Homo sapiens: one gene and its partners. The protein of the gene in region 2 purifies or fractionates together with the protein of the main gene of each other region. This does not show direct contact. Each region holds a gene or a part of one and is shown on either strand. Other genes may lie near its edges. The genes, in order: GOLM1, SLC7A1, GHITM and STX12.

The links.
Region 1: the proteins of SLC7A1 (region 2) and GOLM1 purify together in Homo sapiens (affinity purification with mass spectrometry; 3 studies listed by BioGRID and IntAct, with this or other methods). This does not show direct contact.
Region 3: the proteins of SLC7A1 (region 2) and GHITM purify together in Homo sapiens (affinity purification with mass spectrometry; 3 studies listed by BioGRID and IntAct, with this or other methods). This does not show direct contact.
Region 4: the proteins of SLC7A1 (region 2) and STX12 purify together in Homo sapiens (co-immunoprecipitation; 4 studies listed by BioGRID and IntAct, with this or other methods). This does not show direct contact.

Annotation. Positions count from the first base shown.
Region 1 is NC_000009.12:86,096,476-86,103,911, forward strand, and holds the start of GOLM1 (Golgi membrane protein 1), read right to left. Parts: upstream 3,084-7,436; 5' UTR 2,936-3,083; intron 1-2,935.
Region 2 is NC_000013.11:29,585,126-29,592,688, reverse strand, and holds part of SLC7A1 (high affinity cationic amino acid transporter 1), read left to right. Parts: intron 1-5,896; exon of another isoform or gene 5,897-5,964; intron 5,965-7,563. UniProt on the Homo sapiens protein: High-affinity, low capacity permease involved in the transport of the cationic amino acids (arginine, lysine and ornithine) in non-hepatic tissues.
Region 3 is NC_000010.11:84,142,095-84,149,657, forward strand, and holds part of GHITM (growth hormone-inducible transmembrane protein), read left to right. Parts: intron 1-560; coding exon 561-660; intron 661-1,900; coding exon 1,901-2,012; intron 2,013-2,780; coding exon 2,781-2,922; intron 2,923-6,635; coding exon 6,636-6,744; intron 6,745-7,563. UniProt on the Homo sapiens protein: Plays an important role in maintenance of mitochondrial morphology and in mediating either calcium or potassium/proton antiport. Mediates proton-dependent calcium efflux from mitochondrion.
Region 4 is NC_000001.11:27,797,061-27,804,623, reverse strand, and holds part of STX12 (syntaxin-12), read right to left. Parts: intron 2,947-7,563; coding exon 2,809-2,946; intron 1-2,808. UniProt on the Homo sapiens protein: SNARE promoting fusion of transport vesicles with target membranes. Together with SNARE STX6, promotes movement of vesicles from endosomes to the cell membrane, and may therefore function in the endocytic recycling pathway.

The DNA of each region.
Region 1 (7,436 bases), on a different chromosome or scaffold from region 2:
CCTTGGAATTTGTCAGAAATGCAAATTTTGTGGCCGACCCCAGACCTACCAAGTCAGAGGTCTGTTTATTCCACTAATAAATGCAAACACAGGACAGCAAAATACCGTGGCTGGCAAAGCTCTATACTGAGTCAGCCTTGCATGAGATACCTCATGAAGTAGAAACTATGCTGATGTAATCAGATCTGACAAGACACAGGCCCAAAATACTTAAAATTAAGAGAAAGAGTATTTAAAACAGGGTTTCTACCTCTAATGTTGTTAACAAATCCAGCCCTATGTGTATATTGGGCCTTGAGACACAATATAACCATAACAGCAAATACATGTAGTTTATAAATAAGCAACAAATGCACATACAGAAGAGTGTTAAAAAAGTTTTTTTATTACTAAGAAACATCAAAAAAGTTGGGAAACGATAGCAAATTACAATATAAACAACTATAATCATATTATATAGTATTTATATATGTACTTTTTTCTGTCAGGCACTAATCTTCAAAATCTTAGCAAGGGAAGTCCTACTAATAAAGTGCTTAAGGGTTTTAAAGGAAAATAAGACCAAAATGTAAAAATCTGAGAAGGCATGGACTTTTTTTTTTTTTTTTCCTGAAAGTGTGAGAAATATCTGTGTGAAAGAAAGGAAAGACTCTCTGGAAATTTAAGAAACACTTCATAAATTTGGAGACAAGTCTCTCTTTTAATGTAACTTCATCAATAACGTGAGAAGTCCAGAAAACCACCATGATCTTTAAGAACAGTTTTTGGGGAGCAAGTGAAATATCATTCGCCCTTTTCTAAGGTGAGAGCAAAAGCATAGTAGCACCATTCCTTCTGTTCCTTCTACTTTTTTACAAATGTTTAAAAAATTGTTTTGTTTTACAAAAACAGAAGTGCTTTTAAAAAATCCCAATTACAAATGTTATTTCTCACATTACGTCACTGAAAAAGAAATGTATCTTTTTTCATAGGGCAACTTATTTTTTTTTTATTTCAAGAAAAAACAAGTAATAACAATAATGCTGCAGAATTTAAGCCAAAGGCACAGAACACCGCTCCCCCGCCCCCAATGGCCACCCCAGGTCCTTTGAGAAAGGCGGCTGGACCTCAGGGACCACGCTGCCTTCAAGCTCCCTCCCACCAATAGTGCCCATCAACTGACACCTGTCTTCTTCTCAGCACACCTGCCTAAAGTGATGCTCCACCCTTCCTACTGATCCACGCAGACGCATTTTCCCCAGGTTCTGCCCTCTGTACTTCCAATGCAGAAAGCCAGCTCGCACTTTCACAGGATAAGGGTAGCAGTTCCCTCCTTCCTGGGGAAGGTGGCCATATATATATAAACCCGGGTAGCCCTGGGCCTGCTATGGTCAGCTGTCCTAACTGTTGTTTCTGCCCAGCCCTCAACAACAACAACAACAGCGGGTGGAATGTAAATGCAAAATCTTTTCATTTCCCATCAATAACTGGACCTAAACCAGCCATTAGAAAGCAGATGGTATCCCTGGCCCTTAATATCCAAGTCACCACAATTTCCTGGCCCCACCCTCAGCACTACTTTCCTCTCATTTCTTTCGTTTTCCTGTAAAACCAACTTTAAAAAAAAATGTGAAAATTGGATAACCTCTCCATAGGAGAACAAAATGTATCTTAAAAGCTAACCTCTTTTCTTTAACCATCCTAACAATTCAATTTTTGTTCACTGACACCTTAAGAATTGAGTGTCTGGCCTAAAAACAGTAAGTCTTAGCAAGTTACTAGTTTCTATTAAGAAAGAAAGTAATGAGCTTAGCTTCATCTTTTATAACACAACTGGAAGAAGCTAGGATGCCTTTGGAGACCCACAAAAACTGACAAGAGATTGTCCCATGCCCTCCAAAATTCAGAAATACTAAAACTGAGATTTGAGCCAACCTGATGGCCATGAGCTAAACAAAGCCACTCAAGCGCTGCTAAATACTTCATCAGGTTATTGTGTATCTCACTAATCCAGCCCTAGAAATGTTCCTCAATAATGTGCATAATGTAGGGCCTAGGGACCCCAAATCAGACAAAGAAAACCTCAAAATCGTGAAAGTCACACAAGTTTAGTTTTGCAAATCTGGCTATGGGACATCTGAAATTGTCCAGCATCATCATGGTATTTCAAATATAATAATTCTTAAATTTTGCTAAAAAATTTCATCAAAATTGTTATTCTTCACATTTTGTTTCTTAAAAGCAAATCATTAAAAATATTAAATGGGATATGATTTTTACAGCAGGGCAAAGTTGTGTGGATCCTCCACGTTGGCAAAGGTGGAAACACAGGTATGCGAGAAAACCCCGAGCATCCACGAGAACGGGATGCAGCCGCGCTCTGGACGCGCGGCGGGAGGACCCGGAGCCCAAGCTCCGGGGTCACCAGCCACGAGGCCCAGCGGCAACGTGGACCCCAGGGCGGCCGGAGCGCGCCTGGGGCTGGAGGGGAGGAAGAGGCGGCGGGAGCCGAGAGACTCGCGGCTCGGCCAGCCTCCCGCGCCTGGTGCAAATCACGCTGCAGAACTGGAACTAGTGCGACTTAGGGGGTGCACGCTTTTGACTTTGGATGCCGACGCGCGTGACAAAGCTCAGAACAAAAAGACAGGCCCCGCATCGCCTGAGACTGCAGGGCAGGGAATCCTCGCGAGGCCCCTCATCGCAGGGCAAGGGGGCCGCGCGCCCGGTCTTGGGGAGCGAGCCGAGGGGCCCAGGCAGCCGCGGGCTACTCGGTGCAGGAAGGTGCGGAGCCAGCCCCGAGCGCAGCCAGCGAAGGTTGCAGCCCCGGCGCAAGCCGCGGGGAGGCTCCGGGGACCGACGCGAGGTCTCGGCGCGCGGGGTACGGGCCCTGGGCAAAGGAGGGAGGAAGCGATGGACCGCGGTTCGGGCAGCCTGGGGCCGCGCGCCGCCCACTCACCTCTTTTCGAGGCTCCGGCCGCCACTCGGGGATCCGGGGCCCCGCTACGAGGCCGCCCGGGTCGCTCTCCCGCCGCCGCCGGCCTCGAGCTCCGGCCGGCTCCGCGCCGTGCGCCCAGCGCCTCCGCGTCCAGCGCCGCCGCGTCTCCGGCCTCCGCAGCGGCAAGGCCCCGCCCCCGAGCAGCGCCGGCGGCGCGAAGGGAGGAGGCGGCGCCGCGAGCGCGGAGAAGCGAGGCAGGGGCTGCCGGGGCCGCGCGGACTCCCGGCCCCACGGTGCGCGCGCCCCGGCCGGTGGCCGCCCCTCGGCGGGAGCAGGAACGCCAGCGTGCGCCCAGTTCTCGCCGCTGGGCGTTGCCCCTTCCCCCGGGCCACCCCATCGCCCCTTCCGACGCGGGAGCTGGCGCCTGAGCAGCGACGCGGAGCGGGGAAGCGGCTGTGGGGAAAGGGTACCTGGGGGGAGCCCCCATCCCACGTTCCGCCCCGAGGGAATGTTCCCGAACAGCCAACCGCACCCAGCGCCACACTCACGTTACCTTCTTTATAAAAGTCGTCGGGTCAAAACTGCCCAGAGAAGGAAGCGAACGAAAAACAGGTTTTTAGGGGGCTTATACTCACAAAATTGTCTTTTTTCTCCCACGAGGCATTCCCTGTTGACCATCATCTCGCCTCGGTTGTCACCGCTCAGGCCTTAGTGTTTGGTCTGTGACCCTTCCACTGCTAGCAACGGAAAAAGTGAAGATTCCCGGACGCCTTCGGGTGTGATCTTATAGCCCGGGCAGCTGCATTTGAAACAGCGCCTCAGATGACGCTCAGGCGCACTGATGTTTGAGAAGCCCTATGAGGCCGTACCTCCCGGAGAGAATGCCACAAAACTAGTGACCTACAGGGAAACCATGCTAGAAAATTCTAAAGCAATGGTTCTTAACTCTGGCAGCACCTGCCATCCATTAGAATTATTTGGGGAGCTTTTAGAGCATTTAGGAACCAGGGTCCCACTTCCAGAGTTCAAAGTGAACTTGATATTTTTTGTTTGTTTTGAGCTTCCCAGATAATCCTAATACAGTATACGGCCAAGATTGAGAACAGTTTTCCTAGAATCATGTCTTCATGTCTTCCTAGCTCTGGTGTCTGGGAAAGGAAACTCCTTCCTCTGCGCCTCTCTCAAATCACAATAAAAAAACAAGTAAATACATGAACACCTAAAGGAATGCTCACAGCTGAAATTGATTTTAACCAGAACAAAGAGTCACCTTAAAAAAGGTGATCAAGATACCCTATTGCTACCTGAGCATGGAGCTTCTTAACTGCAGGAAACGTATCTTTACCAGCTAAAACCTCTTAGCTGAATTAGAAGCTGACCATACATGACCCCTTTAGAGGAATGTTCTACTATATTCCAAAATGATATTTTTGTTATCTGCAACTGTTAAACTGTTGTAGGGTCAGACCAAAGCATTCAGAAGCTGAGGCTGTATCAGATGTCAGCCCTGGTTTTGCAGACTTAAGTTGTGTCACTTTGATCTTCTAGTGAGCTTAAATAACCATAATCGGGGACAGGTACAGGAAATTCCCTTTCTTGCCCATTTTAGCTCTCTTAGTATAGTTTACATTCTTAGACTGGTGGACTGTAACTTCTATATCATTTGGCTCTAAGGAGGGTCTCCATTAGTCTCTCATTTATCAGCAACTAATTAGCGACTCACTCAGTGATTCTTAAACACTTTATGGAACAGGTCCATATGTCTAGGTGCTAAGGCAGCTGGCTGAATGAGCTATATTTTAATTGAAGATGAATTAGTCCTTTTCGTTAGATTCTTTATGACAAAAGTTGAAAATTTTAAGATGCAGTTTTATATATATCTATATACATAATTTACATTCCTTATAAAAAAGCTAATCAGTTGCTGGCCCTGAAAATTCAATTGGATGGGTTTTGATTAAACAATGTGCAAGGGGCTACAGTGGTTGGTTGAAGGAAGCATCCATGTTTTGCCTGTTAAGCATCCTTTCCTTAATGTCTTAGTCCATTTTGTGTTGCTATAACACAATTCCACAGACTCAGTAATTTATAAAGAAAAGAAATGTATTTCTCATAGTTCTGAAGGCTAGGAAGTCTAATATCAAGGTGCTGGCATCTTGCAAGGGCCTTCTTGCTGCATCAGCCTGTGGTGGAAGGCAGAAGGGCAAGAGGGTGTATGTGAAATTGAACTTGCAGCCTCAAACCCTCTATAATTGGCATTAATTTATTTATAAGAGTGGAGCCTTTATGACCTAAACACCTCCCTTTGGGCCCCACCTCCCAACACTGTTGCACTGGAGATTCAGTTTTCAACACGTGCTTTATGGAGCACACATTCAAACCATAGCATTCTGCTTCTATGCCCCCCACCACCCCCAGTTCATATCCTTCTCACATACAAAATACATTTATTCCATCCCAACAGCCCTAAAGGCTTTAATATTTATTTATTTATTTATTTATTTTGAGACAGGGTTTCACTCTGTCCCCCCGGCAGAAGTGCAGTGGTGTGATCATGGCTCACTACAGCCTCAACCTCCTGGGCTCAGGTGATTCTCCCACCTCAGCCTCCTGAGTAACTGGGACTACAGGTGTATGCCATCATGCTCAGCTAATTTTTTTGGTATTTTTTGTAGAGATGAGGTTTTGACATGTGGCCCAGGCTGGTCTCAAACTCCTGGGCTCAAGCAATCCACCTGCCTCAGCCTTCGAGAGTGGTGGGACTACAGTCATGAGCCACTGCACCTGGCAGCCCTAAGGTCTTCACTCTAGCACCAACTAGAAAGTCCAGAGTCTCATCTAAATCAGATATGAGCAAGATTCAAGGCACAATTCATCCTAAGACAAATTCCTCCAGCAATGAGCCTGTGAAATTAAAACAAATTATTTACTTCCAAAATACAATGGTGGCACAGGCACAGTATAGGTATTCACATTCCCAAAGGGAGAAATATGTAAGATAAAGGGGTAACTGGTCCCAAGTAAGTCCAAAACCCAACAGGGAAAAAATAACATTAAATCCCAAAGCCTCAGAATAGCCTTTCTTGACTATATCTCACCTTCTAAGCATACTAGGGTGGGAGTTGGACCCCCAAGGTCTTGGGCTGCCCCATCTGTATAACTTGGCTGGGTGTAGTCATGTCACAGAACCTCATGGTTTGTAGTCTCATGTCTAAAGCTCTTCCAAGCTGTGTTGCACACTGGTAGCTCTACAGTTCTGGGGGCTCTGGGACAGCCCCAACCCCACAGTTCCATTGGTCATTGTCCTAGTGGTGGTTCCCTGCTATGGCTTTGCTTCCATGGCTCCACTAGGCATTTCCCTGGTAGGGAATCTCTGTGGCAGTTCTGCCCCTACGGCAAGTTTCTGCCTGTATCCCCAGGCTGTCCAGTACATTCTTTGGAATCTAGGTGGAGGCTGCCATAGCCCCATAGCTCATGAACTCTGTGTACCTTCAGAATTAGCACCACATGGATGCCGCCAAGGCCCACCACTTACACCCTCTAGAACAGTAGCCTAAGCCACAGCTGGGCCCACTTGAGCCACACAGCTGCAACAGCTGTGGAGTGCTGTGCTGGAAAGCGGGGAGCAGATACTTGAGGCAGTGCCTGGTAGCAAATGCTGAGGTCCTGTGGCCACGTCTCTGGAAACCTTGCCTTCAAGGTCCTGCTCTGGGCCTGTGATGGAAGGGGCAACCTAAAAAATCTCTGAAATGCCATTGGGGTCTTTCTTGTCTTGATGAATAGCACCTGACTCCTTTCTAGCCATGGTAATCTCTTTAGCAAGGGGTCCACTGGACTATATCCCTACAAGGACTTACATCTTTATGAGGCTCTCCCAAACATGCCTTTGCACTCTTGGCCAGGCTGAAAATTTTCAAAATTTTTTTCTGCTTCCTTTTTAGTTATAAATTTCATCTTTTAATCATTTATTTCTTCTCTAATTTTACTGTAAGCAGCCAAAACAATCCATGCAACACCTTGAATGCTTTACTGCTTAGACATTTCTTCTGCTAGATATCCTAGTTCATTGCTCTTAAATGCTGCCTTCTTTTCTCTAGCTTACCTTATTGTAAGAATACAGTTTATAATACATATAACATGCAAAATATGTGTTAACTGTTTATGTTATCAGTAAGGCTACCAGTCAACAGTAGGCTATCAGTAGTTAAGTTTTGGGGGAATCAAAGTTAAATGCAGATTTCCAACTGTGCAGAGATGGGGGTGTCCCTAACCCGTAGATTGTTCAAGGGTAAACTGCATGAAATAAATTGAATTGAACAGACTAAAAAGTATTTGCTGTAAATATCTTGCTGTGTTTGCTTTCAGTATCCATTATTTCCTTTCTCAGGTACCAACATCATCATTTTTTGGAGAACTATTTCTCCCTGACTTTTCAATCCTAAATATCTGTCATAAGCTGAACAGTTGCCCCCTGCCAAAGATATATCCATGCTCTAATCCCCAGAACCTTTAAATATTATCT
Region 2 (7,563 bases):
ACTTTAGTGGCCTCCCTTTCTGTTTTGCCATAATCTGCCTCCTCCCCCACTCCCATACCCATCTACAAAGCAGCCTTGAAAATAACCACCCCTGTGGTTCAGTGTGGGTCATGATCTGTCAATCCAGGCTTAGTACATTTCCAAATGGAATTACCAGAAGGATGGGCATCAAACTGGGAAAATGATTTGGTGGCTTGCTAGCCGTGTTCCTTTTTCTCCCAAGGCATTCGTTCAGATGTGCAGTGTTGGCAGACCCAGGGGATGCCATTTACCTGGCCCACTGGTCGAGATTTGGTCATCCCAGGAACTTGGGCTTCAGAAAAGATGTTTCTGGGCTTTGGACCAGATTCTGGCTGGTCTGTGGTTTGCCCCTCCTGCCACACCCAGTGGCTTTCATTGGGCTTTTTTCCTCTAGTTATTGTCAGGAACAGTGGGGAATGGCAGGTATTGCATTTGGTGAACACACTGGATAACTGGAATCAGAGCCGTGTGACTGAGGGAAGAGGCCTTCACAGCTTCAATGCAGAATGGGATGATTATCTGCCCTGAAACGAAGGATGCTTCTTTGAGGGGAGTTGGGACCAATACTGGGAACAGCACCGCTCCTGGCTTCTCTGGCTTTGCTTCTCTCTGAAGTAATTTAGACTTCGTGAACCTTACATACTGGCTCCATCTGTATATTGGGAGAGCCTGTCCCTCTCAGCCTCACAGTAGTGAAGTTAGGAAGCATGGAGTCCACAGTGTTCTTTGAAAGAATCAAGGCACCAAGTCCATGCATTTACATTTCTCTCTTGAGATCAGTCCTTTTGTTAGCAGCCTGCAATTCTGACCACGGCAACCAAAAATTTCTGACCGTGGCAACCAAAAATCAAGCGCGAGGAAACCTGGGGGTTTATTTGGAGGTGGGAGAGGATGTCCCTTCTTCTGGTAGGACTATGTCTGGCTACATTGTCTTTCCATTTTTTTCTGATTGTCCCCTTGCCCCCCTCCCTTTTCTGGGGGCACAGAGGGCATGGCAATTTTGTTTCCTAGCTTTCCATATTCCTACTGCAGTGCTTTCTTCAGAATACTTGTTCAGATCGGATTCTTGGCTGTGAGGGCAACCAGCTGCTTTCCTGTTTCTTTAAAAGTGGATCCCACACTGCCGTGTCCTGCACAGTGAGTTCTGCATTGTAGAAACCATCTAGCAGTGGTGACTCAGGGAGTGGCCTCTGCTCGGTATGGGGCCTCTGCAACATGAGGTTATGGGGCTTCTACGCTGTGGGGTCAAAGGAGACATCATGATCCCTACTGGCAGAAAGAGCAGAGCCCCAGAGTGGGTTCCACTTACGGGGTCAGTGTCTTTTCTGAGATATTCCTCAGAACCACATTTAAATTCTTTTTCATATTGTTTGCATAATAATTGCCTTCTAGTGCCTACTTTATAGGACTGAGAGGATTTAAATGAGATAATCCATGTTATGGATTTAACACAGCCTCTGGCACAAGTCTAAATGTTGCATGTAAGTGTTAACTATTATACTGGAAAGAAGGCTCAGTTCCTTGATTTAGGTGTGGGAGAAAAATATATATATATTTTGAGATAGGGTCACACTCTGTCACCCAGGCTGGAGTGCAGTGGTGCAGTCACAGCTTGTATTAGCCTCCACCTCCTGGGATCAAGCGATCCTCCCACCTCAGCCTCTGAGGTACCTGGAACCATAGGTGTGTACCACCACACCCGGCTAATTTTTATTTTTTATTTTTTGGTAGAGAAGGGATCTCATTATGTTGCCCAGGCTGGTCTCAAACTCCTGGCCTCAAGTGATCCACCTGCCTCGCCTCCCTAAAGTGCTAGGTTTATGGTCGTGAGCCACTTAGCCTAGCCCTGAGAAAAATAATTTTTACAACAACTTAATTTCGCTCTCTCATTTTACCAAGGCATTAAAATGTTGTGCTCTTTCCTTGGGTGGGTTTCTAAATTAGAAGGGGCAGACATAGTCCCAGGGTGCTGGAGGAGGGATGCGGGCCTCTGAGGCATCTGCTGACAGGTTCACCATCCCATCTGGTCCCAGGTCTGAGGGAAGGAACAATAGTCTCTGGGCTGTTTTGGCTCTGACTGCCTGGATGGACTTGAAGCCATCTCTCTTTGGAATCCTGATGTCTCCCTGAGCATGGGGTGCAGGTTTGCTTAGGACTCAGACCCATGCACCTTGCGCTCAGTGACTTCTAGGACTCCTGGGAAACAGAGCTCTCAGCCCCTTTCTTAGTGTTTGCTGTGTGTGGGTATGTGTATGTTTATGTGTATGTGTATGTGTATGTGTATATGTATGTGTGTGTGTTTGGTGGGGGGCAGGACGGGAGTGACTGCCCTGGCTACAGTCATCCCAAACATGTTGTTCAAATTACTCCGAAGCCCTTGGGTTTTAGAAAAAGCAAAGCTGAAAAGCTGAAACTCTGGGCCGTGTTTCCCACCTCACTCATCCCGTGCTTGGGTCTGTAGGATAGGATGTCTCCATACAGCACAGGGGTGGTGGGCGACACCCACCTGGGGGCAGCAGTGAGAAGGCAGGGGCTCATCCTCCCCACAAAGTGGCTGGAGTTGATCTGTTATGGACGTGTTCGAAGTGTCCTTCTCTGCATCTTGTCTGCTTACTGAGTGCCATTAGCCAAAGTCTGTTAGGCCAAGTAGGAAGGAAGGGAGGGGCCCTGGGGCTAGGTAAGATCAATCATTGCAAGCACTTATTTAGTGCTCACCATGTACTCTGCGCTTTATCTATGTTTCATTTGAATCTTCCTAACCACCCAGTGGGATCGGCCCTTCTGGTGTGACTGATGGGGAGAGGGGAAGGCAGGTGGCCCACGGGCACACAGGTAGGCAGTCAGTGGCAGAGTGAAGATTGGAACCCAGATGTCTGCCTGTACCTGGACTCCAGCCTGTCTCGGGATAGGCCTGGCCTGGCCTGCCCTGTGTACACTGAGTGGGAGGCAGACAGATCTGAAGCCCATCTGCCTGCGTCCCTCTGTTTCTGGCTGAGTCCAGGTGGTGCTGGCACCGGTCACCCGCCCCAACGCTGGAGGGCACCCTGCCTCCCCTCTCTTTGCCCTGATTTCCCTCTGCTGTCTCTGAAAGTGGGTCTTCCCCCTCCCAAGTCCAGGCACCTGGCACAGCTGGAGCCCTGGGGTCCTTGGGGCAGCTGCGCTGGGACGTGGCCAGTGTCAGGAGCCGGTGTGTGTGACGGAGGCTGGGCTGCATTCTTTCTGGGTCAGTAGTTTGGCATTTACATCACCAGCCTTTGGCTGGATGCAATGCCTCCTGCCCAGACCACAATGGAGCCTTGTTTGATTTATCACCATCCAGCCACGCCCACACTCCACCTCCATCTCCACCTGGGGAGACCCCTTTGCAGGGGGTCTTGTGGAAATCAGAGACTGTTCGTAGGGGAAAGTCAGCTTCCTTTTCTGTGTTCCATCCTTCTTAAGGCCAGTGGCCGCTGTCATCCTGCCCTTGGCTTGGCTTTGCTGATTTCTACAATATCTTGCGGAGGTGCCCCCTTTCCTTAGAGGATGCATCTTTAACACTCTCAGAGAGGCTGGGGCAGGAGCTGTCCACACCAGGGCCTGCAGCAAGGGCCCGTCTTCCCCAAAGTGACTTGGGAGAGTCTTCCTGGCCCGCAGCTTTTCCACAGTGTCAGGGACACCTCCTGCCCTCCCTTGGGATGAGGCCTGGTCTAGGAGCTGGGGGCGTTAGGGTGCAGTTTCTGGGACCCAGTGAAGGCCCCTGGGAAAGACTGGCAGTTAGAGTTAGGAGAACTCTTCCCTCATCCCTTTTGCCCTTCTCCTTTTCCCCTTTTCTTTTTCAGCAGTTTTTGGATAACATTTCAAACTTAAAGAAAAGTTGCAGAGGCCAGGCATGGTGGCTCACGCCTGTAATCCCAGCACTTTGGGAGGCTGAGGCAAACAGATCACTTGAGGCCAGGAGTTTGAGACCAGCCCTGGCCAACATGGTGAAACTCATGTCTACGAAAAATACAAAAGTTAGCCTGGTGTTGGTGGCGCATGCCTATAGTTGCAGCTACTCGGGAGGCTGAGACACAGGAATCACTTGAACCCGGGAGGCGGAGGTTGCAGGGAGCCGAGATCACACCACTGCACTCCAGCCTGGGTAACAGAGTGAGATACTGTCTCAAAAAAAAAAAAAGAAAGAAAAGAAAAGAAAATTTGCAGGAGTGCAAGGAACTCCTGGGTACCGTCTCTCAGATGCACAGGTGGGTTATGTTTTGCCTCCTTCTATTCTCTCTCCACCCCACACAAACTCACATGCACACAGACACATACATTTTTTTCTGAACCATTTGAGAGTCAGCTGAAGACGTCATGCCATTTTATTTGCCCTCTATACTTCAGTGTATATTTCCTAAGAACAAGGCTCTTCTCTCACATAACCATGGTACAATAGCAAAGTCAGGAAATTTAACATTAATACAACCCTGCGATCTAGGCCACAGTCCATATTTGACTTGCAGTCGTCCACATAATGTCCTTTATAGCTAAGTATTTTTGGGGAAGGAGTTTTGCAGTGTGGGGGTTCTTTCAAAAGAGGTGTGATTTTCTACCTCATAAGCCTTTTTAAGAAAAAGTGTTTCTAAAAGTTAGAATGTTTGTTGTGGAAAATTTGGAAACTACAGAAAATTAAAAGAAGGAGAAAATAAAACCCATTCATAATTCCAGCTCAGAGGCTGAGTGATCGACCAGAAAGGTGGTGGAAAGACTTTCTCAGCTCCTTCAGCTCTGGTGACCTGGCCACACAGACTCGTGATCCCTCCACCACCCACACACTAGTCAGGAGCCCCGCAGCCAAGTCCTGGGGCTGTGGGAGGAGCCGGCCCCTGTCTGGAGCTGACGGTCTTTCATGCTCCTGCCCACCCCTTGGGCAGGTGCCCACCGAGCAGGCAGACTTAACCAGCCTTGGTGGTGCCTTTGTGGTGCATATCCTCCAGGTGGGGAAGGGTGGAGATCGTTAATAAATATCCAGAACTTGTTTGAGACTTGAAAAGAAATGTTGCAGGCCCACTCTTGTCTGGTCTATACCCCTTGCTTCCTGGACTTGGCAGAGGTTAAGGATGGGGCCTGGAGCGTGATTGAGGGAAACAGCACTGGCCCCATATCAGTGAGCTCTTGGGTGCTTCATGTGGTTGTTAGACTTGCCTTTTAATGAGCCTCTTGGCCCCTACCAGTGGGCTACGGAAGAAATAAAATGTGAAATTTTACCATGTGAAGTTTGCTGTTTGCCAATGACTGTGCTTCTCAAAAGTTCCTAGGGAAAGGTTTTAAAACTGGTGCAGGTAGTGAAGTTTGGATCTCGCTTCCCTGCTTTGTCCGCTTAGGTGGTCCATTCGCCATAACAGCTGGAACTGAGAGTGGCTCTCCCCTTTCCTGGCCCAGAACGGGTCTTTGCTAAGCGAGTCTGGTTTCTGGAAGGATTTTGTTCTTAGAAGCTACTACGTCATTGTCCTCAGCTCCCCATCATTTGTACCTCAGTTTCCCTGAGCTGTAAGTCTATGTTATGTGTGAAAATGGGCCTCTGAAGGTCATGATCAAAAGCCTTGAGTATTTTTCCATGTGTTTGTTTTTTCTACTCCGGCCCCAGACCCTCTCCTTGAAGGAGCTGGCCTTGAGAGTGACTTCGGTGGGCAGCCGCCCAGACTCCACACACCCTGCTGAGTCCACGTAACGCCCAACCTGGACGGGCCAGAGCTGAAGGGCTACTCTTCAAAGAAACCCTTTGAAGTGCAAACATTTCCTTTCCTGAAAAGAAGGGAAATTGAAATGAAAACGTATTGTTCTGTGCAGACAATGTTCTCTTCGATCAAAGAGGGAGTGGGGCTTATAAAGGGAGATGCACAAATTAGAGCTTGATGTGGCCAGTGGTGTGGATGTGAATATTCATCCCTGTGGAGGAAAATAGTGGGGTCTCTGAGATTTGTAAGATTGTATTTTCCTTTTTTTTCTTCTTTTTCCTTAAGGCTCTGAATCTAGGTCTAACGTTCTATTTAATGATGTCTCTCCTTTGTGTTTTTATCTTGTGGTAAGCATTTGGGAGTGTCTTTCAGTAAATCATGATACCATTTCCATGTTAGAATACTATGTAGCCAGTAAGAATGGCGTTTTCAAAGAACATTTGATTTTGTGGGAGAAACTTTAATGTTAAAAGTGAAACCATCTGGGTGCAATTTCCCATGTTCCGTGTTAGCTTAATGAGATATATGTATTTGCACAGAAAGAAAAGACTGGAAAAATTGGACTTTGTTTTTCTCACTGCAGTGTTTGTGGCACCTAAAATAGTGCTCAAGAAATATTTATTGAATGACTATTCTTATAATTAGTAAAACTGTATTTAAAGGAGGAATGTCTTTGAGCTAATGTTTTGGCAGGTGGATGGGACAATATATTATTTTAAGTTTCTGTTGTAATTTTGCCCTAGCAGCTCAGTTCTGGTAGATTTTGTTCTTTGGCACACATACATACCCCATTTTGCACTTTGGTACAAATTATACTGTGAATGGGTGACTTTGACATTTATATTTTTGGAAGAATCCAGTTCTACTGAAATCAGAGTATCAGATGTTGTCTTTTTCCTAATGTTCCCAGATGGGGTAGAATTACAGCTTCTTCTTACTTACTCTGTAACTAAGGAACCTTTGGGCCAGTTTGTCCTGTCCTGTGGTTGAGAATTTTTGCCTGGTTTGCCCAGGGTTTCTCATCCTTGAGCATCCAAGGCTACCAAGATACACTGTTCATATGTCGTCCTGGTTTCTAATGGATAGTTATCTAAAAATGCAGCTTCCCATTCTTACCTGCACTGTAGGTTAGCTTGGAAGATGTCCATCCCTGGTCTCAGTGGTCTTGTTCAGGGAGGGTGACTGTCACAGCTGTCCTTTCCTCTCTGGTGAGATTGTTTCATTCCTCCTTCAGGCACTTGGGATTCAGAGCCCTGTTGGCTGCCTCTTCTGTACTGTCAGCTTAGCACAGGATTCTGGAAGCCCGGTGCTGGGAAAGCCTTTCTCTGGGCTGTTTGGGATGGGACTACTGGTTACCCGCACACACTGGTACTCACTGGGTGTTCCCGAGGATGGCGGCTTTTAAACTTCTTTGACCGCAGTCTACAATAAGAACTAAATTTACATTGTAATCAAGTACACACACAGAGGCACACATATTGATATATAGATAAAATGAAAATTTTTATGAAACAGTACTCATTTTTACTATCTGTGATACGCTGAGATAATTTTTATTCTTTTCTATTTCATTACAAGAAAAATTCCTCGTGGCAACTTGGAGTTTGCAAAACACACTAGGTTTAGACATATGAGCCACACCTCACCTGCAACTCCACCACATTGTCCTGAATTTCATGTTCACTGCTGGCACTAGGGGATGGGAGTCAATTCTCCATCCAGACCAGTTAGGGCAAAGAAAGTTGAAGAGTCAAGGTTTCTTTTTGTGGTGATTTAGGAGTTTCTGACTGAAGGGGACATTATTCTCTGTGATGATGCCCAAGAAAGTGAGTAGGTTTTCAGG
Region 3 (7,563 bases), on a different chromosome or scaffold from region 2:
TTTGAAGTGTGAGGTAATGAGGACAATATAAAGAAGCTAGGAGACATTTTCTCTTTTAAATTAACTGTTCCACTGTTGAAAAAGAGCCACAATGGAAGTAGTAGTCTTCCCTCTTCTTGGCTTCATGTTAAGGAAAGATGCTGTTCTTGAGTCCATATCCCAGATGACAAAATATAGCTAATAATGCTTGTAGAATGCATATCTTAAAAATGCTAACAGATTCTCACCCTGGTATTTGGTTAGGATTTAAAATATAACAATTCTAGGTATGTAAATCTATAGTTTGTGAAAGAAACAATTTTTCTGAAATTGAAACTAAGAATAATATAATGAATTACTAACTTCCAAAGGTGGAGCACAGGGAAGGTCTACATTTATTTATTTATTTTTACATTTAGTTTTTTAAGTTGGCTAATAAATTTCCATAGTGAAGTTAGGTATATAGAAAGTACCAAGTTTCTTTAACTAGAGTTTTCTAGTGTAAAGGGATCTTGCATTTTATTTTATTAACGTTCTGTTTTCATGTGGGTGGTACGTGTCTTTGTTTGCATGTGTGTCAGGAATATGCCACCAAAACAAGAATTGGGATCCGGCGTGGGAGAACTGGCCAAGAACTCAAAGAGGCAGCATTGGAACCATCGATGGAAAAAATATTTAAAAGTAGGTGGCTATCTTTAGTTTTTAACCTAGAATCTATGGATATGTTTTAAGAGGTCCATGAACAACTTCCTAAAAATATATGTGTATTTGTGCATTTTCTGGGAAGACCACATTATTATTCTGAGATCTGACGACCCAGAAAAGATTGGTACTTTGCACTGGATTCAGTGGTTATCAATCATATTTCTTCCAGTGGAAATTTTACTTTCCTTTTTTTTAAAGAAAAGGATTATTAATATGCCATGGTCCAAAAGGTATACTCTGTTGAGAAAGTTCATTTTAAGTGTGTAGAATCCTCATTCAAGCATATAATATTTGTGTATGTTTCAGATTAAGAATAAATCACCAACACATAGATGTTAATAAAAGCCTAGCTGTCCAAGAAGAATCCTTTAACTCACTGCTCACATAGGGCCTCAGGAGGGCAGTACTTTAATATATTGCCAGTTTGGTTCAGTTTGGATATCAACTTTGCAAGTTCAGAAACTAGATTGTTAATCATCCTAAAGCTATTCAAAGAATACCACTGCTCCTTAATAATCTTGCAAAATGTCTTTACAGTGGGAGAGAGCCCTAATCAGTATCCTTCAGGTCATTTCTTTCTGATTTGACCCTAGAGACCAAATCATGCAAATTATGTAGTGACAGCCTAGTAATATTCTTAGTAAACGAATTAGACTAAAAGAATAAGATGCCCTTTATGAATACCTCTATTGAGTTAGAGTTGATTAGTTGCCTCTCAGTACCCTAAAACGGGAGCCTCCTCTCACTTGATTCTGCTGCATAAACACTGATTATATTTTCTCTTTTTTCTTGATTTCCACGTAAAGCATCATTTGTGTTAATACCATGCAGTATGGTATGACTGTTAACATTTCCTTCTCATTTTTTACTTTCCATGAATGTCATGTGAATATACTTCAACCTCTTATTAGTAAAATAATAGGTATCACAGAAGTAGCTCCACGTCTACAGGTATACTGCTCCCTCAAATATTGTTGGAGGGAGGTTGAAGATTCACCAAGCCTGATCCTTTCTTTTTTGTACTGATTTTTACACCTTTGTTTCAGGAGTGTTTTTTTCTACTGGTTACCTAACATTGAGGCAATTTCTGTACCCCATATGCACTGATTATGGCTTCTATTAAATATGGTACATGATTTGATTCCCTTGATAAATATTTTAAAGGCTTTGTCCAGATGTGCCAGTACTAACCTGCATTTCCTTCTGTGTTCTGCAGTTGATCAGATGGGAAGATGGTTTGTTGCTGGAGGGGCTGCTGTTGGTCTTGGAGCATTGTGCTACTATGGCTTGGGACTGTCTAATGAGATTGGAGCTATTGAAAAGGCTGTGTAAGTAAATTGTTTTAAGTAAACTGTTCCTAAACAACTCCAGCCTTAAAACAAAAATTCAAATTTTCTTCTCATTCCTATCTTTAGTCACTTTGGAATGTTTTGTGTCTAGTCTTTGTGTATACACACAAATAGAGAATCTCTTTTTGCTTCTTTGACATTTATTTATTCAAATCTAAATAAAAATCTTTTAGCAAGGTTATATGTGTTTAAGCAAAGAGAAAATATGAAATATGTTTTTTGTTTGTTTGTTTGTTTGTTTTTTTGGAGAGAGAGTCTTGCTCTATCTCCCAGGCTGGGGTGCAGTGGCGCGATCTTGGCTCACTGCAACCTCCGCCTCCTGGGTTCAGGCAATTCTCCTGCCTCAGGCTCCTGTAGGTGGGATTACAGGCACATGCCACCATGCCCGGCTATTTTTTGTATTTTTAGTAGAGACGGGGTTTCACCATTTTGGCCAGGCTGGTCTCGATCTCCTGACCTCAGGTGATCCACCCACCTCAGCCTCCCAAAGTGCTGGGATTACAGGCATGAGCCACCGCACCCAGCCAAAAATATGTTGTTTTTTATATGTGCTTGTATGTTTTATCTCATTTAGTCCTTACAGTAACTCCCAAGTATGCATAATTATCATAATTATTTCCATGATAAATGAAGTGAATAAGATTTAAAGTGTAAAATGATTTATCCCGAGGTCGCCCAGCTAGTGTGTGACTCAACCAGAAATCAAATCTGTAATTTCATAGATTAATCATGTCATGTTTCTTACAGAATTTGGCCTCAGTATGTCAAGGATAGAATTCATTCCACCTATATGTACTTAGCAGGGAGTATTGGTTTAACAGCTTTGTCTGCCATAGCAATCAGCAGAACGCCTGTTCTCATGAACTTCATGATGAGAGGCTCTTGGGTGGTAAGTCAGCTGTTTTTGTTTTCCTTTTTCATCTAAAGATCAAAAGATTAGATAAAATATATTGGAGGGAAGGGTTATTAAATGGAAAGAATACTGTATTGAACAAGTTTTTGTTCAAATAATGTATGAATTACAGGTTGAGCATCCCTAATTTAAAATCCAGAAATGCTCCAAAATCCAAAACATTTGTAGTGTCAACATGATGCTCAAAGAAAATTGTAGCATTTCACATGTTGGGTTTTTGAATTAGGGATCCTGAACCCTAACAACAATGAAGTGTAATGATAAATAGTCCGAAATCTGAAGTCTGAAACACTTCTGGTCCCAGACATTTCTGATGAGAGTTACTCAACCTGTATTAGTGCAGCTGAGATAAAAGTAGGAAGTTCATTCTAGGTAGGTCAGCTATTATTCTTTATTAAACATGTATTCGAATAATACCAGAGGAGTTAGAAATCAAACTTACAGAGACAACATTTTTGTCTAGCAGCAGATATCAGACAGCCTCTAATTTGTAGCAGTTTACTAAAAAAATAAAGCAAATGCAAAATCATCTTAGAAGTCAGAGGGAAATGCCTATGCAGTTAAGAGCAGAATAGTGCTGCTACTATTATTCCTAAGATTCTTGACCTTATAGAAGATTTTATATTTAATCGGTTTCTCTGGAGCCCTTGTTATTTTGCTAGATAAGAGAATTTGAATATGTGTCCCCTATTCTCCTGCTATTTGGTAGAAGAGATGAACTGGAATAAGTGGCACAGATACGCAATAAGAAAGTGCAAAGTCAGTTGAGAGTTTCTGTCTTGGACTGTTAGGCAAGTTCCGTGAAGGAGACATTTATTTCATCAGGGTTGTTGAAGGCTAACATGTCTCATTTATTTTAGAAGTAGACAAGAGGGCCAGGTGCAGTGGCTCACACCTGTAATCTCAGCGTTTTAGGAGGCTGAGGCAGGAAGATTGCTTGAGCCCAGGAATTTGAGACCAACCTGAGCAACATAGTGAGACACTGTCTGTAATTTTTAAAGAAATAGAAAATTTTAAAAATTAAAAAAAAATTTTTTTAAGTAGACAAGGGCGGTCCAATTTTACCAAACAGTTTAAGGGAAGAGGAGGTAGGAAAACCTAATTTCAGAGGTGACTTACAATCCCATTAGAGGGAAATTCAAGTGTTTGAGGTCTGGAGGGTAAAGAAGACGTGGTTAGAAAGGATACAGTTGTCAAGCTGAGGAGAGAACCTAAGCAGTCGGAGGCCATTGGAGATACTGGAACAACAAAAGCGTGATTTATATTTGAGTTTTTAGAACCAATGTGGAAGAGACATGGAGCAGGTGTACCAGCTGTGCCTTTGTAAGATCTGAAATGAGGGATGATAAGAACCTGAACTAGAGCAGAGTGTGATACTGGAGGGGAAGGAGAGTTCATGTAACACTGATTCCCCACATAGGGACGAAAACCATATTATTTTCACTGTGTTGTACTTTACTAAAGGATAACCATTTACAGTAGCAGCCATTTGGATATTTATATATTCTTAGGATCATGCTTTTTCACATAGACGTCATGAATCTCCCAGCCCAGAGGTTCACAAAGGCACAGAATGTTTCACTGGGGATGTCAGTTTTAATCAGAAGCAAATAATTTAAAACAATACTTTTGTAATAAACATGACAATATTTACCTAAAATTTTAGGCCCTAAAATGAGGCTTCAAAGAAGTTTTGTGTTTGGGCCATATCCTCAGTCCCTTCTGGGCAAAAGATTACCCTCTTCCACTGTTAGTAATACAGAAAATAGGAAAGCCAAAGACAAGTGTTACAGAGATGAAGATGTAACCTTTTGGGTGTGACAGACATATATATACAAACACACACATAGACACACAGATAATGTCAAAGTTTGTCCCAAGTGCATCTGAGGAGAGGTATCTGATCTTGCTCTTGGGCAGCCAGGGTACCTACTAGAAAAAGCTTTTGAGATGAGACAGTACCAGAGTAAGTCGACCAGATATGGAAGGAGATATTCTTAGGCATGATGGATTGAATTAAGGAGGCCTGAAATTTTGGGGCATGTTGGCAGCTGTGCCAGTTCCGTATGGTTGGAATGCAGAGTTTGGAGTGAGACTGGATCATAGAAGATCTTAAAAAAATTTAATTGCTGCTGTCCACAGAGGATGTGTGAAATAGTTTGTAGTAATTATTTCTCGTTAGAAAATGGTGGAGTGGAGCTCGATATGCTTTTCTTTTCTTTTTAATGTTTTTTAAAAATAGAGACTAGATCTCTATGTTTGCCTAGGCTTGGCTTAAATTCCCAGGCTCAAGTGGTCCTTTCACCTCAGCCACCCAAGTAACTGACATTACAGGTCCATACCACTACACCCAGCTCAGTATGCTTTTTCATGTTAAGGTTTTCCCATTCTTGGCAAAACCAGCTATTTGGTTTACCTGTACTTTATATTAGAGGTTGAATATTTTGATGTTCATAGGTGAGACAGATAATACAGATGAGTGAGGAGGCCTAGTGTGTCACACAGGAGATTGTTGACATCTAGAGGTTACTGACATCTAGAGTTAACCTTTTCAACTAAAACCATTCACCATGTTCTTTTTTTTTGTTTGTTTTTTTAAACATAGTTTGCCAAACAAAACATCTGTGGCCTGATTCCAAGGGCTACAAGTTTGCAATCTCTGATTTAAATTTCTTGGAGATTAGCACCATCTTATTTCCATTACATGTTAATACATTCTTCTTGTCATACACAAGCAATATTTAATTATAACACTGGAAATCTAAGATAGGCAAAGAAAAGGAATGAGGACCAAATTAGCCATAAACCTGGAAGGGTAGAAGTGTAGAATCTTATTTCTCATTTTTCTTTTCCATGTGCTGTGATAATCTACTTTCTATTTTTCAAGTCTTCATTTAGCAAATATGGAGTTCAAAGTGATGTGCTATATATATTTTTTTTAAAAATTACTAATTTGTAAGCATCACTGATTTTAAAGAAAATGCTATTTGTGCTATACAAAAATATATTTTTTAATTAAGAGTTAATTATCTTGGGATCCCTAAAGGGTTTTTGTTTCACCTCTGTCCAACAAGAGTAAAATTGTTAAAAGATGTGTTGCCAGTTCAAGCTTAAGACATGCATTTGAAGCTGTCTGCAAAACCTCATATATGGCAGTAGGGGGCACTCGTGCTAACTTAGCCAAAACTCTGAAATAAACCCAGAGCTTTTAATGTGCCAGAAAAATTAAAGTTTTTATTTTTTATTTTTTATTTTTTATTTTTTTATTTTGAGATGGAGTCTCGCTCTGTCACCCAGGCTAGAGTGCAGTGGCACGATCTTGCCTCATTGCAACCTCCACCTCCCGGGTTCAAGTGATTTTCCCACCTCACTCAGCCTCCCAAGTAGCTGGGACTACAGGCGCGCACCACTGCGCCTGGCTAATTTTTGTATTTGTAGTAGAGACAGGGTTTCACCAGTTAGCCAGGCTGGTCTCAAACTTCTGACCTCAGGTGATCCACCTGCCCCAGCCTCCCAAAGTGCTGGGATTGCAGGCGTGAGCCACCACGCCTGGCCTTAAGCTTTGATTTATTATCTTTAATATTTTTACAACTAGTTTATTAGAAGTAACTAATTGTACTTCAAACCTGTGGGTTTCTGCTTTGTTTTCATATAAAGATCAGTTTTTCTTAATAGTACTTGTCTTTCAGACAATTGGTGTGACCTTTGCAGCCATGGTTGGAGCTGGAATGCTGGTACGATCAATACCATATGACCAGAGCCCAGGCCCAAAGCATCTTGCTTGGTTGCTACATTCTGGTATGTTCTGTTTTAAATTGTTACGAGACAACCTTGACTACCACCTTTTTTGGGTGGCTCTTCACAGTTGTAAATGACCTACATGGAATTTAAGCCTCATGTTTAGAAAACACCATTTTCTTCAGTCATTACTGGCTGCATTATTGCCAGACCTTTGCTTTGAAAAGTTGATTTTGCTAAGACCATGGACATCTTCAATACGAAACTTGTATCTTCTGACAGTCTAGTATATGCAGAGATTTACTTTTGTGTATTTTGTTCGATACCAGGAGGGTTTTATATCTAGTACGCATCATTTGAGAGTTGTTTTTGTCTGGTATGTTTAGAAAAATTAAAAACTGAGGATAGAGAAAGTTGTGCTAAAAATGTTGCTGCGAAATAACAAAAAACTGAGAGGAGTCCTAATAGAAGTGTTCTGTGTAGAAATTTCACCCACTGTTTTGCCTAGAGCAAAAAGTATTTTTAAATTATTCATCATCATGAGATAGTATACCTTATTAACCATATAACTTGATCTAGAAATGTTATTCTTTAAGCTAGTATTGAAAATTCAGTATAAAGATAGCTTTGTGCCTAGTCTATGAGGTAAACGACATTTAAGAAAAAGGTAACTTATTCTTCTTAGCACTGAAATAATGCATTATCTAAGTTTTTTTTCAATTAAGGAGTTCCATTTACCTTTGTTGAATTACTGGTAAATTTTTTACGAAATTGTTTATAAATATCTGACAACTAAAATTACTTATTTATAAGCTGTTAGCAGTCCTTATTACATAAAGAAACAGCAGTGTCTGTCTTAGAAGTTCCCACATTTTAAGT
Region 4 (7,563 bases), on a different chromosome or scaffold from region 2:
TGGCCAGGCTGGTCTTGAACTCCTGACCCTGTGATCTGCCCGCCTCAGCCTCCCAAAGTGCTGGGATTACAGGCGTGAGCCACCACGCCCAGCTTCGGGCAGTTCTTTATAGCAGAGTGAGAACAGACTAATACAGGTCCTTAGTAATTTTTTTTTTTTTTAAGATTCAAGAAGATAACTTAATGATATTTTTTTTTGAGACGGAATTTCACTCTTTTTGCCCAGGCTGGAGTGCAATGGTGCAATCTCGGCTCACTGCAACCTCCACCTCCCAGGTTCAAGTGATTCTCCTGCCTCAGCCTCCCAAGTAGCTGGGATTACAGGCATGCGCCACCATGCGCGGCTAATTTTGTATTTTTTAATAGAGACAGGGTTTCTCCATGTTGGCCAGGCTGGTCTTGAACTCCTGACCTCAGGTGATCCACCCGCCTCGGCCTCCCAAAGTGCTGGGATTACAGGCATGAGCCACTGCGCCCGGCCACAGAATTTAATGATTTTTAAGAGTGTAATGGGTTCCTGAGATTAAAAAGTTTGACAACTTTTGTTCTATTGAGTTGTATCTTTCTTTTTCATATTGATTCATGGGAATTCTGGGGTTTTTTTTGTTTTGTTTTTTGTTTTTTGAGATACAATCTTGTTGTGTCGCCCAGGCTGGAGCACAGGGGCACAATCTCAGCTCACTGCAACCTCTGTCTCCCTGGTTCAAGCGATTCTCCTGCCTCAGCCTCCAGAGTAGCTGGGATTACAGGCACGCGCTACCACGCCCAGCTAATTTTGTATTTTTAGTAGAGACAGGGTTTCACCATGTTGGCCAGGCTGGTCTTGAACTCCTGACCTCGTGATCTGCCCACCTTGGCCTCCCAAAGTGCTGGGATTACAGGTGTGAGCCACCACGCCTGGCCGAATTCTTTATATATTCTAAATGCTAGTCCTTTGCTATTAAATATATATAGCAATGTCTTCTCCCTGTGACTAGTCTTTTCACATCTTTACCACTTTTTTTGTTCTTCATTTCTTTCTGCTTTTCAGACTTTCCATCTGAGATCACTTTCCTTCCATCTGAAATACATTATTTAGAATTTCCTTCAATAAGATGTGCTGACAGAAAACTCTCTTTTGATTGAAAATGTCTTTAATTAGCCCTCATTCTGACATATATTTTCACTGGGTTTAGAATCCTAGGTAGGCAGTTATTGTCCTTCATCAACATTCAAGATAGCACTCTACTGGCTTCCACTGTTGTTGAGAAGTCAACTGTCAATCTAACTATTGTATCTTTGAAGGTATTCTAATGTTTCTCTAGCTATCTTTATGATTTTTCTCTTTGTCTCTGGTCTGAAGTTTGTCTTTGATGTATCTAGATTAGAGATTTTATTTATCCTGCTTGGGATTTGTTAGGCTTCTTGAAACTGCAGGCTAGTGTTTTTAATCAGTTCTAGAATATTATCACTCATTATTTCTTCAAATATCACCTCTGTTCTATGTTTGCCCTATTCTCACTCTATAACTCCAGTTAAAACTACGTTAGATCTTTTCTCTCCATTCTCCATTTTTCATAATCTTTCTTCCGTATTTAACCTCTTAACCCCCTATGCTACATGCTGGATAATATATTCTAACCAATTTTTTAGTTAAACCACCCATCCACTAAGTTTTTAAATTTCTATATTATATCTTTCCATTTTAGAAATTCTTTTGACACTTTTTCAAATCTTTGTGTAGTTTCCTGCAGAGGTTTTCAGCCTTTTATGTCTTTAAACACAATAAGTATAGTTGTCTTATAATTCTAATATAAAAAGTCTTTGTAGGTATATTTCACTTCATTGTTGTTTCTACTAATTCTTGTTCAGAGTAATTTGTTTCTTTGCACACATGGTTATTTTTAGTGACTGGTACTTACTGCCCTAGAAAAATTATTTGAGAGTATTATTTCAGGGCTAGGATAAAGGTGTCTTTCTACAGAAGGAATTTGTGTTTGCTTCTATCCCACACATAGGTGGCTCTCCCAGTCCAGGACCACTGAACCATTCAGGTAGGATGAATTTGAGCAGAAAATCTGCCTGAAGAAGGTTACTTTGTGGTAACCTTGTCTAGATTTCTCCTCCCTCCTGCCCTCCTCCTCCATCTGCTCAGTTCAGTGCTAATGCAATCTTTCTGTAATCTGCCGGGGGATAGAAGAGCTTACTTTTGACTTAATGTTCTAAGGATATAGTCTCTTAGGGCCCAGTTTAATTTGAGTTGTACCTTCTTTTATATTCTCTCTCTTGCATGGACCTTTGGCTTTGACTTTTATCCTCCCCATGCCATGAGGATATCAAAACTGAAGTTCAAGTTTGCCTTCAGTAAAGACATTCAATGCAAAAGCAGTTTCAGTATTCTGCTGACCTCTCAGGCTTTACCTTAATATTTTCATAATCTTTGATACTTTTGAGAAGTTGGATTTTTAAAATCCAGTATTTGAAAATCCTTTTCAAAAACAGAGGGCTAGTCCAAATAAACTAGCCTGTTATATTCCAGGAAACAGATTCATTATTTTTATTTTCAAGTTTTTAACGTTAAAACCAATATATCAAAATGAAAAAGAAAATTAGACATAGTTCTTCCTCCTATATCTCTTAACCTTCATTCAGATTCCTTTCTAGGCTTTGATCACATGCATATATGTTTTTTACATAGGTTACACCAACCTGCCATTTTCACAGCAGCTAACTTACATGTTTATTGGTCAAAGAGAAAAAGAAAAAAACCCACAAACTTGGAAAAGAACATTCTGATATTGCAAAGGTCTTCTTTTGGGAATCAACTTACAGAAAGACGAGATCCAGCTCTTGCTCTGGCAATACTCTCCTTTTCCTTTTCAGATACCCTTCTCTGCACAGCCTGGAAATTGTTTAAGGCTGCAGAGAAGTCATTCATGAGGCGTTCCTTCTGAAGTCTCTGCTGGCGCTAAGGAAATCAAGCAAGAACTTGAGATTTCATATTAACCCAGAATCATTTGGTTTTAATTTCCCTTAAAAGTAAAATTATACCCCTTAAAGATTTCCAACTAGGAAAATTATTATGAAATAGTCTCTTCTTTAAATTAATAAATTTGCTCTTTGCTAGCTCAAGTCCCTGGTTAATACTATAGACCAAGTCAGAATTTTTCTTCTTTCATTCTGACAAACCTGGAACTGGGTTGCATTTAACTTCTTCTTCTTTTTTTTTTTTTCTTTTTATTGAGACGGAGTCTTGCTCTGTCGCCCAGGCTGGAGCGCAGTGGCATGATCTCAGCTCACTGCCAACCTCTGCCGCCCGTGTTCAAGCGATTCTTGTGCCTCAGCCTCCTGAGGAGCTGGGATTACAGGCACCCACCACCATACCTGGCTAATTTTTTATTGTATTTTTAGTACAGATGGGGTTTCGCCATGTTGGCCGGGCTATTGTAGAACTCCTCACCTCAGGTGATCTGCCCGCCTCGGCCTCCCAAAGTGCTGGGATTACAGGCGTGAGTCACTGTGCCCAGCCTGTATTTAACTTCTAAAGTAATCTCCAAAGAACTGCAATTCAGAATTTTGGTGCCCTGGAGAATATAAAAGAGAATAAATACCTCTGGACTCCAGTTGAATCCAAACAGAGATGGGTTTTAGCTAAAATGTTAAAACCCTATTCATCTATATTGAATTCACAGCTTCCCTGTAAACTATAGAAGCATTTCACAGGCTTTTAGTGGTTTAAAATCTTTGAGACTTGGTAAGTACTTCATTTATCTACAGACTACCTCTACTAAGCTTGTTACTTCTATGTCTCAAAAAACATATGCTGAGGTTGAGCACAGTGGCTTATGCCTATAGTCCTAGTATTTTGGGAGGCTGAGGCAGGAGGATCACTTGAGCCTAGGAGTTCAAGACCAGCCTGAGCAACATGACAAAATCCTATCTCTACAAAAAATAAAAAAATTAGCCGGGCGTGGTGGTACACATCAGCTACTCAGAGGCTGGGGCAGGAGGATCATTTGACCCTGGAAGGTTGAGGCTGCAGTGAGTTGAAATCATGCCATGTACTCCAGCCTCAGCAATAGAGTGAAACTCTGTCTGAAAAAACAAAACAAAACACACACACACACACACACACACACACACACACACACACACACCACATACTGACAGCATTGTCCTGTTCTATGAACACAGAAGTAAAAACTCACCCCTGACCTCAAACAGCTGTCTATTTGTAAATAAAGGATATAGACAGACAAGTAACAAAGTTATTATAAATAACTGCTATATCCAATTGGTACTACAGGAGTTCAGAGGGCAGGAATAATCAGTAAGAACTCAAGCGGCCAAGAAAGGCCTCAAGAGAAGGTGGACAGTGAAGTAAGAGGAAGGCATGAATAAGCAGAAAGAAGGGGTAAGGCAAATCCAAGCAAGAGAATAGTGTGAGCAAAGGCATGGTGGCAGAACTTGAAGAGGATCTCTAGACAGACTGTTTGGTTGGAACTACACGTTTAGTAATGAGAGTAGCTAAAATACAAAATTGGAAAGTTAAGAAAGGGGCCAACCACAGCAGGTTTTAAATGCCAAGCTAGGCCGGGCGCAGTAGCGCATGCCTGTAATCCCAGCACTTTGGAAGGCAAGGTGGGTGGATCACTTGAGGGCAGGAATTATTCAAGACCGTCCTGGCCAACATGGTGAAACCCCATCACTACTAAAAATAGAAAAAATTACCTAGACATGGTGGCAGGCACCTGTAATCCCAGCTACTTGAGAGGCTGAGGCAGGAGAATTGCTTGAACCAGGAGGTGGAGGTTGCAGTGAGCTGAGATCGTGCCATTGCACTCCAGCCTGGGCAACACATGTGAAACTCCGTCTCAAAAAACAAAACAAAACGCCAAGCTATTGGGAGGATGAGGCAGGCAGATCACGAGGCCAGGAGATGGAGACCATCTGGCTAACATGGTGAAACCATGTCTCTACTAAAAATACAAAAAATTAGCCAGGCGTGGTGGCGTGCGCCTGTAGTCCTTTGCCACTTGGGAGGCTGAGGCAGGAGAACTGCTTAAACCTGGAAGGTGGAGGTTGCAGTGAGCTGAGATCGCGCCACTGCACTCCAGACTGAGCAAAAGAGCCAGGTTCTGTCTCAAAAAAAAAAACAAAAAAAAAAACAAGCTAATGAGTTTGGGGTTCAACCTCTAAAGAACAAAGAGCAATGAAGATTTTTGAGCAAGAAACATCATGGGTACAAAATAGTAACTTAGAAAAATTAGTCTGTGATGAGACCTGGGTCACCGTTTACACAAAGGTGGAATGGAAAAAAGAAACAAGTCAAACAGAACACTAATTCAATAGTCTAGGTTTAAGGTTAGGAGGACACAGTATCAGTAATAAAATCATAAAGAAATGAATTTAAGAAACATTTTGACTGGTGGTGGGGAAAGAGAGATAAAGTCAAGAATGACTGAAATTTCAAACCTGGAAGAGTGATGGTAATACTAAAAGCAAATTTAGATGAGCAACCCTTTTCTTCTGAGATTTTTATTTTTGCATAAACAAAATTATAACAATAACGGGGAGGACATCATTCCCTAACCTTACCGTGCAAAAATATTATCATAACTTTTAAATACATCATAAACATTTTCCATGTTACCATACTCTTCACAATTATGTTTTTGTTTTTTTTTTTTTTGAGACAGGGTCTTGCTCTGTCACCCAAGCTGGGGTGCAGTGGTGTGATCTCAGCTCACTGCAGCCCCAACCTCCCAGACTCAAATGATCCTCTCACCTCAGCCACCTGAGTAGCTGGGACTACAGATGTGTACCACGATGCCTGGCTAATTTTTTTTTTTTTTTTTTTTTTTTGAGACGGAGTCTCGCTCTGTCGTCCAGTCTGGAGTGCAGTGGCACGAGTTTTTTTTTTTTTCTTTTTTTGAGATGGAGTCTCGCTCTGTCACCCAGGCTGCAGTGCAGTGGCGCGATTTTTTTTTTTTTTTTTTTTGAGAGGGAGTCTCGCTCTGTCACCCCGGCTGGAGTGCAATGGCACAATCTCAGCTCACTGCAACCTCCGCCTCCTGGGTTCAAGCAATTCTCCTGCCTCAGTCTCCCGAGTAGTTGGGATTATAGGTGGCCACCATCACGCCTGGCTAATTTTTGTATTTTTAGTAGAGATGGGGTTTTGCCATGTTGGTCAGGCTGGTCTCAAACTCCTGACCTCAGGTGATCCGCCCACCTCGGCCTCCCAAAGTGCTGGGATTATAGGCATGAGCCACCGTGCCTGGCTAATTTTTGTAGAGATGTTGCCCGGGCTGGGTCTCAAACTCCTGTACTCAAGCAATCCACCCGCCTCAGCCTCCCAAAGTTCTGGGATTACAGGTGTGAACCACTGTGCCCGGCCATGATCTTTAATCGCTTACATATATTCCATCAAGTTGACCTAAATTTTATGTAAATAATCCTTCTAGATTTTTCACAGTTATTAAATATTATAAAGTAAGCCCCAATGTAATGGCTAATATTTATATAGTGCTTAAATTGTACCAGTACTACTGTAAGTGCTTTACATAATAATTCATTTATCTATACAATGACCTATAAATTAGGCATTATTATAGTCCCAACTTTACACATCAGAAAACCAAAGCACCACAGAGGCTATGTAATTTGCCCAGGATCACACAGTAAGTGACAAAGATGGATTTAAATCCAGGAAATTTGGCTCCAGAGTATATAGACTCTGTGTGTGTGTGTGTGTGTGTGTGTGTGTGTGTTTACCTTCAGAATTTTTTTTCCCCTTAGGGCTAATTAGCATGAGTGAGAATATTAGGTCAAAAGGCACAAACTTTTCTGTGATGTTAAGTATTGTCAATGAACTTAGTTAAGGGGTTTGGGAGAAACATGAGAAACTCAGTATAAGACAAGTTTTATATGAAGGTAGTTTATTTCAGGAGGAGATGTCAGAACATGAATTGAAGATATGGGCCACGCACTTAGAGGTGAAGGGGTTAGATTGGAAAAAGATCTGAGGTCATGATCATAAAGGTGAAAGGGAGGTCATAAAAGCAGGTGACTCCTAAGGAGAAAGCATACAGTGAAATAATTCGAGGATCAATGGCACAACCTTGGGGCATGCCCACTCTTAGGAGGATATGAAGTCCGGGAAGGAGGCTGACTCAACCTGGGGATCTCCAGAGTTGGGGGACACAATGAAAGAGAATCATGGCAAGAAGAAAGTTTCAGGGCAGACGGGATAGGCAAGAGGATCAAAGGAAACAGAAAAAAAGTGAATAGGCCAGGCATGGTAGCTCACACCTGCAATCCCAGAACTTTGGAAGGCCGAGGCAGGCGGATCACTTGAGGTCAGGAATTCAAGACCAACCTGGCCAACGTGGCAAAACCCTGTCTCTGCTAATAATACAAAAATTAGCGTGGTGGTGTGCGTCTGTAGTCCCTGCTACTTGGGAGTCTGAGGCAGGAGAATTGCTCGAACCTGGGAGACAAAGGTTGCAGTGAGCCTTTGCTCACTGGAGTGCAGATCATGCCACTGATCTGGTTGGAGTGCAGATCACGCCACTGCACTCCAGCC